Linked DNA regions of Homo sapiens: region 2 is reported to be linked to region 1. Evidence: microRNA targets listed by miRTarBase, many of them from high-throughput screens and not tested one by one. Region 1 holds a microRNA gene; the other region holds the end of a gene's coding sequence.

Evidence for each region. The annotated mature microRNA hsa-miR-665 reads ACCAGGAGGCUGAGGCCCCU and lies in region 1 at 1,787-1,806, opposite strand. An mRNA with a match to its seed (bases 2 to 7 or 8) in the 3' UTR can be bound and repressed. Matches are read on the target gene's strand: a 7mer-m8 pairs with bases 2 to 8, a 7mer-A1 pairs with bases 2 to 7 and ends in A, and an 8mer does both.
Region 2: miRTarBase lists PLEKHB2 as a target of hsa-miR-665. Seed matches in the 3' UTR shown: 7mer-A1 at 1,835-1,841.

Annotation. Positions count from the first base shown.
Region 1 is chr14:100,872,814-100,876,880 of GRCh38, reverse strand. MIR665 (microRNA 665) reads right to left here and starts at 1,848; the gene lies at 1,777-1,848. It overlaps MIR337 (microRNA 337), which reads right to left and starts at 2,388; the gene lies at 2,296-2,388. RefSeq lists an enhancer at 3,040-3,209.
Region 2 is chr2:131,145,980-131,150,046 of GRCh38, forward strand. PLEKHB2 (pleckstrin homology domain containing B2) reads left to right here. Exons shown (of 8, transcript NM_001100623.2): 8 at 658-3,866. The coding sequence ends at 794. Among named protein-coding and RNA genes, the nearest start is that of PLEKHB2, 43 kb to the left of the region's middle.

The sequences.
Region 1 (4,067 bases):
CACACCAGCAGACAGTGAGGACCTCGCCTCCTTGGCTCCCCTGCCCCATCCAGCCACAGCAGGTTTAGTTTACAGAGAAGAGCGGCAGCCCCCAGGCCCAGAGGAGAACTACTGATAAAGTGATACAACGGACTCTGGGGACTCCAGGAAAAGGGTGGGAGGGGGTGAGGGATAAAAGTACAAACTGGGTTCAGTGTGTACTGCTCAGGTGATGGGTGCACGAGAATCTCACAAATCACCACCAAGGAACTTACTCATGTAACCAAACACCACCTGTTCCCCAAAACCTATGGAAATAAAAAATTCAAAAGAAAAATAATACAAACCTTTTTTTCTCCTGGGGAAAGAAAAAGGAAGGTTAATGTTAAATGTCATGCTGGGTTATGACATCATGGCCACCACAAAAAAAGGTGAAAACTCCTCTGAACAGCAGACAGCACAGCCTGGCGCGGACACTGGCACACAGGCCCACGGGACCTGGCGGGCCACAACTAAATGCACCCATCTTCCACCTTCTCTGTCCACCCCCAGGTCACTGATGTCAGGGGATGGAGGGAGCCCTGAGCTCCACTCCTGCTGAGTCTTGTCCATCAACCTCCCTTCCCGACCCAGCCCACCCCCATGAGATGCCCAACGTGCCAGCCTCCAGCCCTGGTGCACACAGGGCCAGTTTCTGGAACACTCAACAGCACACCACCCAGGCAGCTGAGGGCTACTCACCGCTCGGGTCCGGACTCGCTCATCCCTCCTGCAGGCGGCCCCAGGTCCAGTTAGGGCCTTGGACTCAGGCCCCCGTGCCAGGAGCTTGACCAGCTCTTAACAATCTGCCCAGGGCAGAGACGTGAGGTCCCCTCCTGCCCACCTGGTGACCCCGGTTGCTCCCAAAGTGAAAAAGAGAAAGACAACAAATAGAAGCCATCACCCCCACTCCCAAGCTCCACCCACCCGCTCAGAGCCCTGCTGCGGGGACGACAAGACCCTTGTCATGCCCCAAGCCCATGAGCACTGACCTCAGACCCAAACAGTAAGCCTCGTCCAGACCCCTGTCCACCTGTCTGAGATCAACAAAGACAAGCATACCCATCCTGACACCACAGAAGCTGAGGGGTAGACCAGGAAGGGAGCGGGTGCATGGGGGAAGCGGGGGTGAGGAAGGGGAGACGGGAGGTGGGAAGGAAGGGCAGGGGAGAGGGTGCTCCCTCCTGCAGGAAGGGAGGGGGTGCATTGGGGAGGAGGGGTGAGAAAGGGAAGATGGGAGGTGAGTGGGAAGGGCAGAGGTGAGGGTGCTCCCTCCTACAGGAAGAAGGGGTGCATGGGGAAGGAGGGGTGAGGAAGGGGAGATGGGATGTAAGTGGGAAGGGCAGAGGTGAGGATGCTCCCTCCTGCACCCTCTTGTCCTCTCTAATGGCCTCAGCTACTGCAAGGCCTCTCTCCCCACACTGGCTGCCCTGCTGCCCCGATGCTCATGCCTGGGCTGGCTGTCGTGGCTTGTTAATGGGGTTAATGATGCCAATATCACAGGGCTTGGTGCGGGTCACCTCTGCCATGCACAGGACCTGAGTTAGTCAGAGAGGCAGAAGACAGAGGTCCAAGAACCAGGGGCCACGGCCGTGCCCCCTGCTCATGTTGCCATTGGGCACCCTCAGGTACCCAGCCTGAGCAGGGTACGCACAGGGGAAGAAGGGAGCCCAGCTGACAGCTTCTGGGGACCCAGAGTTGGGAATCCTTGGGGAGAGGGGAAATGTCTCCAGAACAGGTTTAAGGAGAGAGTAAGAAGCCGCCTGTGAGGGGCCTCAGCCTCCTGGTCATGAAAGAGTCCTGGGTAGAGGCAGAGACCCCTCGAGGAGACCCTCCTCTTGGGGCACAGAAAGGGCCAGCCCTGGTCCGCCAAAGCCCCACCCCCTCCACCCTGGGCACAAAGGGGCACCATCTCTCCAACGTCTGTCCATCCATCCTGTGGGCCGGGTCCCTTTGGAGGGCTCTGTGTGGGAGCACAGCCCCAGCCCCTCAGTGGGAGAAGCCCCAGGGCTACCCAACTCCCCCTCCGGCCTATCTGCCCTTGGCTGTGGAGTCAGCCCAGGGGGTGTCCCACCAGGGGCATAGTTCCCTGCCAAGGAGGGGCCTCAGAGATGGCCCAGCCCCAGGCCCTCCCCTCCAGGAAGTCAGAGAGCTGCAGAAGAGAGAGAGAAGAGCCCAAGGAGCATGCCGGGAAGAGGCTGGCAGGACAGCAGCGGACTTGAGGACGCGTCCCCGTGCAGCCAAGGGTGCAGAGGAGGGTCCGGGGGCTGCGCGTGGTTGAAGGGGATGAAGAAAGGCATCATATAGGAGCTGGATAACTGTGCATCAACTCCTGTATGAAGCCGTTCCCACCCCCCAACTACTGACTACGGGCCGCAACCCTCCTCCCGGAAGCGCAGTGCAAGCGCTCGGATGGCAGAGGGGACGCCTGCTGCTAGTGGTTAGAGCAGTGACAGCAAGGGACAGCCAGCCTAGGCAGTGCCACCCACTGCTGGGCACCTGCAGCGCTGGGGTACCTGTCCACCCTGCCCAGCCTTGCCCTACCTGCCTCCTATGGCCAGGGCCTGGGCCTCCCTTAGCCCCACAGAGCCCCCAGGTGACTGTGCAGCCAGGCCAAGGGACGGAGGATGGGGAGGTGAAGGGGGAGACAGGCCTGATTCTGGCCCAGGTCTGTGAGTGGACATCGGGGACTCGACCCCACCCACCCACTGCTTTGACTCCCTGGTACTTCTCCAGCCTTGCCTTCTACATCTGTGAAATGGGTTGCAACAGGCACCTCTGGGGACCCAGTGAGGACTCATGAAGTCCAGGGGCACTTCAAGAATTTCCCAGAGACAGAAAGTAGATTTTTGGTTGCTGAGGGCTGGGGGGTGTGCATGGAGGGTGAAGGTGACAGCTGAAGGCTCTGGAGTTCTTTTGGGGGTGATGAAAATGATCTTAAATTGATTATGGTGATAGTTGCAGATATCTGTGAATAACTAAAACACACTTCGCTGTGAGCTTTAATGGGCGGATTGTGTGTATGTGGATTACATCTCAATAAAGTTGTACCCCAAAACACCTTCCTTTGTTCTTTGACATCTTTCTCAACCACCATACTGCCTGCCTCGTCCTACACTCTCCAGCCATCCACACCACCAACACACATGCACAGGGACACGCAGCCAGGCACGTGGTAGGTGGTGCAAAAATATCTGTGAGTAAATGACCTGATAATATAACATTCTCTGAAAGAGCCCATGGAGGGAAACCTTTAGGGAAAGGGGTTAAAGATTAAGAAGTAGGGGTGGCAGGAGGGTATGGAGGTGGGAAAGAGGCTCAGAGTGACACATGAATGGAAAAGGGGCTCAGATTGACAGACACATGGAGGGAGGAGGGGCTCCCTGTAACACATGGGTGGAGGAGGGGGCTGGTGTGACACACGGGTGGGGGAAGAGCTCCATGGGACACATGGGTGGAGGAGGGGGTTGGTGTGACCCATGGGTGGAGGAGGGGGCTGGTGTGACACATGGGTGGGGGGGGTTAGTGTGACACATGGGTGGAGGAGGGGGCTGGTGTGACACACGGGTGGGGGAAGAGCTCCATGTGACGCATGGGTGGAGAGGGGGTTGGTGTGACACATCAGTGGAGAGAGGGTTGGTGTGACACATGGGTGTGGAGAGGGGCTCCATGTCACATAAGTAAGGGAGGGGCTCAGGGCAATGCATGAGTGGGGGGAAGGTCTCTGGGTGATGCATGGGAAGGGGAGGACTTCAAGTGACATGTGAGAGAAGCTCAGGTGACACATTAGTAGGGAAAAGGCTCCTCATGACACATGAGTGAAGGAGAGGTGGAATGTGAGACAGAAAAGGGGCTCAGTGTGACGTGTGTGGGAAGAGAGTCTCTGTGTGACATATGGGGGGAAGGGACTTGGAGTAACACAAGAAAGGCGACTTGGTGTGACACGTGGGTGGGAAGAGTCTCTCTGTGACATATGGGGGCAGGGACTTGGAGTAACACAAGAAAGAGGACTTGATGTGACACGTGGGTGGGGGAAGATCTCACGGGAC
Region 2 (4,067 bases), not on the chromosome of region 1:
AGACCATCCTGGCTAACACGGTGAAACCCCGTCTCTACTAAAAATACAAAAAATTAGCCAGGCGTGGTGGTGGGCGCCTATAGTCCCAGTTACTCAGGAAACTGAGGTGGGAGAATAGCTTGAACCTGGGCGGTGGAAGTTGCAGTGAGCTGAGATCATGCCACTGCACTCCAGCCTGGGGACAGAGCAAGACTCCTTCTCAAAAAAAAAAAAAAGTTATATGTGCAGATTTAAGGCTTAATTTAAAAATTGGTTTGCGTGCATACTAAGAAGCTCATTTGCTTTAAGTGAGCATTTCCTTTTTGGGCTTTTGTTGGGCACTGTGTGTCTCCCATGTTCCCCATTTGTCTGCCACCCAATAAGCATGGTGTCGAGGGCTGAAGTAGAAATCAGAGGCTAGAATCTGAAAGCTTCATTAGGGTTCTGCTTTTTGCAGATTAGGGACTTTGGCCCTTAGTGAGCTGAGGATCTTGGTTTCCTCCCAGTGTGCGGTTTCAGGGATGTCGGCCACATGATGTGCCTGTTGTGGAGGAGGGCTGGGTCGCCAGTGTGACAGGAGACAGCAGATCCCTTTTGTGAAAGGAGAACTGGTACTTTGCGTGATGTTAAACTTCACAAACCGCTGCTCAGAAATCTGCTATTTTCCTTCTCTTTTAGGACTTTATGGACAGCAGCCTGCTAACCAAGTCATCATTCGAGAGCGCTATCGAGACAACGACAGCGACCTGGCACTGGGCATGCTGGCAGGAGCAGCCACGGGCATGGCCTTAGGGTCTCTATTTTGGGTCTTCTAGGGGCCTCAAGGTCTTGATGTGCATAGCTTCTGATAACCCTGTGTGCAATAATATGATTTGCAGGGCATTTCTGTTTGTGACAAAAGTTTTTAATAATAGTTTTAATCATTCCTTTGAAAGTAGTGATGTCATAATTGTACTAATCCACATAAGTACCACAGAGAAGGGTTTGAACTGTGCTATTTTGTTCAAATGTTGACTCTCCGGGGGCACTGGCTCATTCCAAGACTGTTCTTGTGCAACTCTCAGAATACCTTATTTGAGCATACCTGTTTTGAAAGGCATTTTCTTTTTAGAGTTAGGTGTAGTGCTTAAGGGTTAATTTATTTTCATGTTATGCCAGTAATATAGTGTTGTATGCCTATTGAGTGATTGTGGCAAGAAAAGCTACAGCTTCTTTGCGTTTAACTTTTTCAAACCACAGACCAGAACTGGTTGCATGTTACTTTAGGAGTTGTGGGTTGGTAAGCTCCCAGGTACTTCCCGAGGCTATGGTGTGAGAGCCCCCGTCCTGCCCTCTGGGGCTCCACAGGCCCCTGGCAAGGCCGATGGCTCAGGATGATGGGGCACAGCCCGCCTTTGAACAATCATGCTTCAGAAATCTGCCTGACCCTAGCTGCTGCTGCTGCTCACTTTATTCTTGTATGGCTTTGGTAGGCATACTTGGAGAACATATCCCACATTAGGAATTGATTTAAGCCTGAGAGTTTGAGGGCTTTAATCCTTTAAAACTTGGAGAAGCTGGCTGGGCGCGGTGGCTCACGCCTGTAATCCCAGCACTTTGAGAGACCGAGGCGGGCGGATCACGAGGTCAGGAGATCGAGACCATCCTGGCTAACACGGTGAAACCCCATCTCTACTAAAAATACAAAAAATTAGCTGGGCGTGGTGGCAGGCGCCTGTGGTCCCAGCTACTCGGGAGGCTGAGGCAGGAGAATAGTGTGAACCCAGGAGGCGGAGCTTGCAGTGAGCCAAGATAGTGCCACTGCACTTCAGCCTGGGTGACAGAGTGAGACTCTGTCTCAAAAAAAAAAAAAAAATCCTGGAGAAGCCAGAACAATATACAAACAAGTATGTGGAGGCAGATTTGCTTTATTCCAAGAGGCTGTTTGAGTGTGTGTCTGCCTAAGCCTCCTTATAGCCTATTTTTCTACTTGCTGAGAGAGTAATATTAAAGGAACAGTGAGGGAGTGGAAGGAGAGCCTTAGTTAGAGCGTTCCCATTTCTGGCCTTTGGGGGTTTGCACTGTGCGGGAGATGCTCTCTCATCACTCTGAAGGCCCATCCTGTGCAGAAGTGGGACTCTGTGGCTGTTCACTGAGCACCAGGGCAGACTGTAGCTGAGCAGACTTGGGTTATGGATGGGATATGGGGCCCAGGGACCCTCAGGACACAGGGACCGGCTCAAGGTACCACTCAGCCTGGCCAGGACCCCCAGCTTTGCTTTTGTTCTTGATCTCTTTGTGATAGAGAAGCTTAGAACATTGAATTTGGAACCCCAAAATGTGTGAGTCTTTGGAAAACCCATTCCAGCCTTTCTTCAAATGCTCTTATTTTCAGTATATGAAGTGTGTATTTGAAATATTCATATTTCTGTTATTTCTTGTTTTCAAGCTCTGAATTATTGCAGTTTTCTGTCCTGCATGCTTTCAACAGTGTGCTTTTACAGTGGCAGTTTAGCACAGCGAATGTCCCTGCCCCACACTCCATATGGTCCTGTTTTCCTGAAAATACACTCCAGGTAGCACAGACTTGTTATTTTGCCTGGCTGGTTACACACATGCTGTCTTGCTTTGCTGCTCAGCCACCTCCCTCTGAGGCCAACTTAGGCCAACCTACATAGGACTCCATCTTTAGCGAGACACCAGAGACACCTAGTGATGACCACGGGTCTGCTTTTCTCTCTGATCCTAGGGGACTTGTTGACATGGGAGTGTCTGTTTCCACATGGAAGGATGTCTGTTTATCTCTCATCTCTGAATAGATGTATGACAACTCTAGTGTCCATGGTTTAAAATGTTGCTTTGAGGATTTTCCATCCTGTATAAGAAGAATGGCTTTCTTCAGATTATAATCGTTATTAAAGCTGTATGTACACTTTACTTAAAAACTATTAACAGTTTTTCATGTTGCACTGGTGGTAATTTTGAACTTGGAATTACTGGGTGGGAATTCCAGGAACCACAGAGTATTGATTTTTGCTGCCAAAATGCTCTTGAAGCAGATGTCCCTGTGCTCCCCTGGCTGCTTCTGGCTGAAGGGGGGAGGTGTAGACTGAAGCTTGGGCACTCATGTGTGTCCCCTCCCCAGTCCCCATCCTAGTGGGGCCAGTCTCATTAGGCAGCCATAGATAAGCCTGGAACTTGGCTGTCATTAGTGACTTGATCCTGGTATGAAATGCATACTGGGTATAAGGTTGCTCAGGTATTTTATTTCCTTGGCCACAACTCCCATAGATGCCAATGTTTTGATAGCCTCAGTTTCTCAACGATGTCTTTTGTTTACAGTGCTACACTTAGTGTGAGTCAAGAAGTGCTTGAGTTACAAGAAACTTCTTATTCAGGTTTGAGTAAGCATTTTACTTCCATGTGTACTTTTAAATAATCCATACCTTGAAGAAGTTGGCCAATGATATTATATACATGCTGATCTGATTGTTCTTTTCATTCCTTGAGTCAACTTCAGGGTCTTGGATACTAAAGAGAAGGAGAACTGTGGTTAATGTTTTGGATCATCATTTGTGAACAAGGCCAGACTTTGCCCATTTTAGGCTATCCAGGACTTAAGGTAGCCATCTGGATCATAAGAAGGTCCTGCAGTTGAGACAAAATGACCCAAGTGTATTTTCCACAAGTTTTGATCCTGTGTAATATTTCTTTTTCCTTCCCTAGTGTATGTAGATACAAGGCATGGAATGCAGTTCCACTTTCTCCCCAGAGTTGATCTTTTTGTGATTGCTTTCCCGTCTCTAGTAGTATTCTGTTGTGTCTAGAGAACTGATTTTTTCCTACATACGCAAATTGTACATTTGTAAGTGAAAATGTCAATACATTAAAGCATTAACCTTAAAGCATGTTTCATTGTGACTTCTGTTGTCTTTAAAAAATTACTTTGTAGTAACATACTCTCAGCTTTTTCTGCTGTCCTGGATCATAAGAATGCCATTTATTGAGGACCTACCAAATGCTAGTATATTGTCACATTAGAGACAACTCACTGAATTCTTAGTGACTCTGTAAGGGAGGTATTATCCAAGTTCCACTGGAGGGACCGA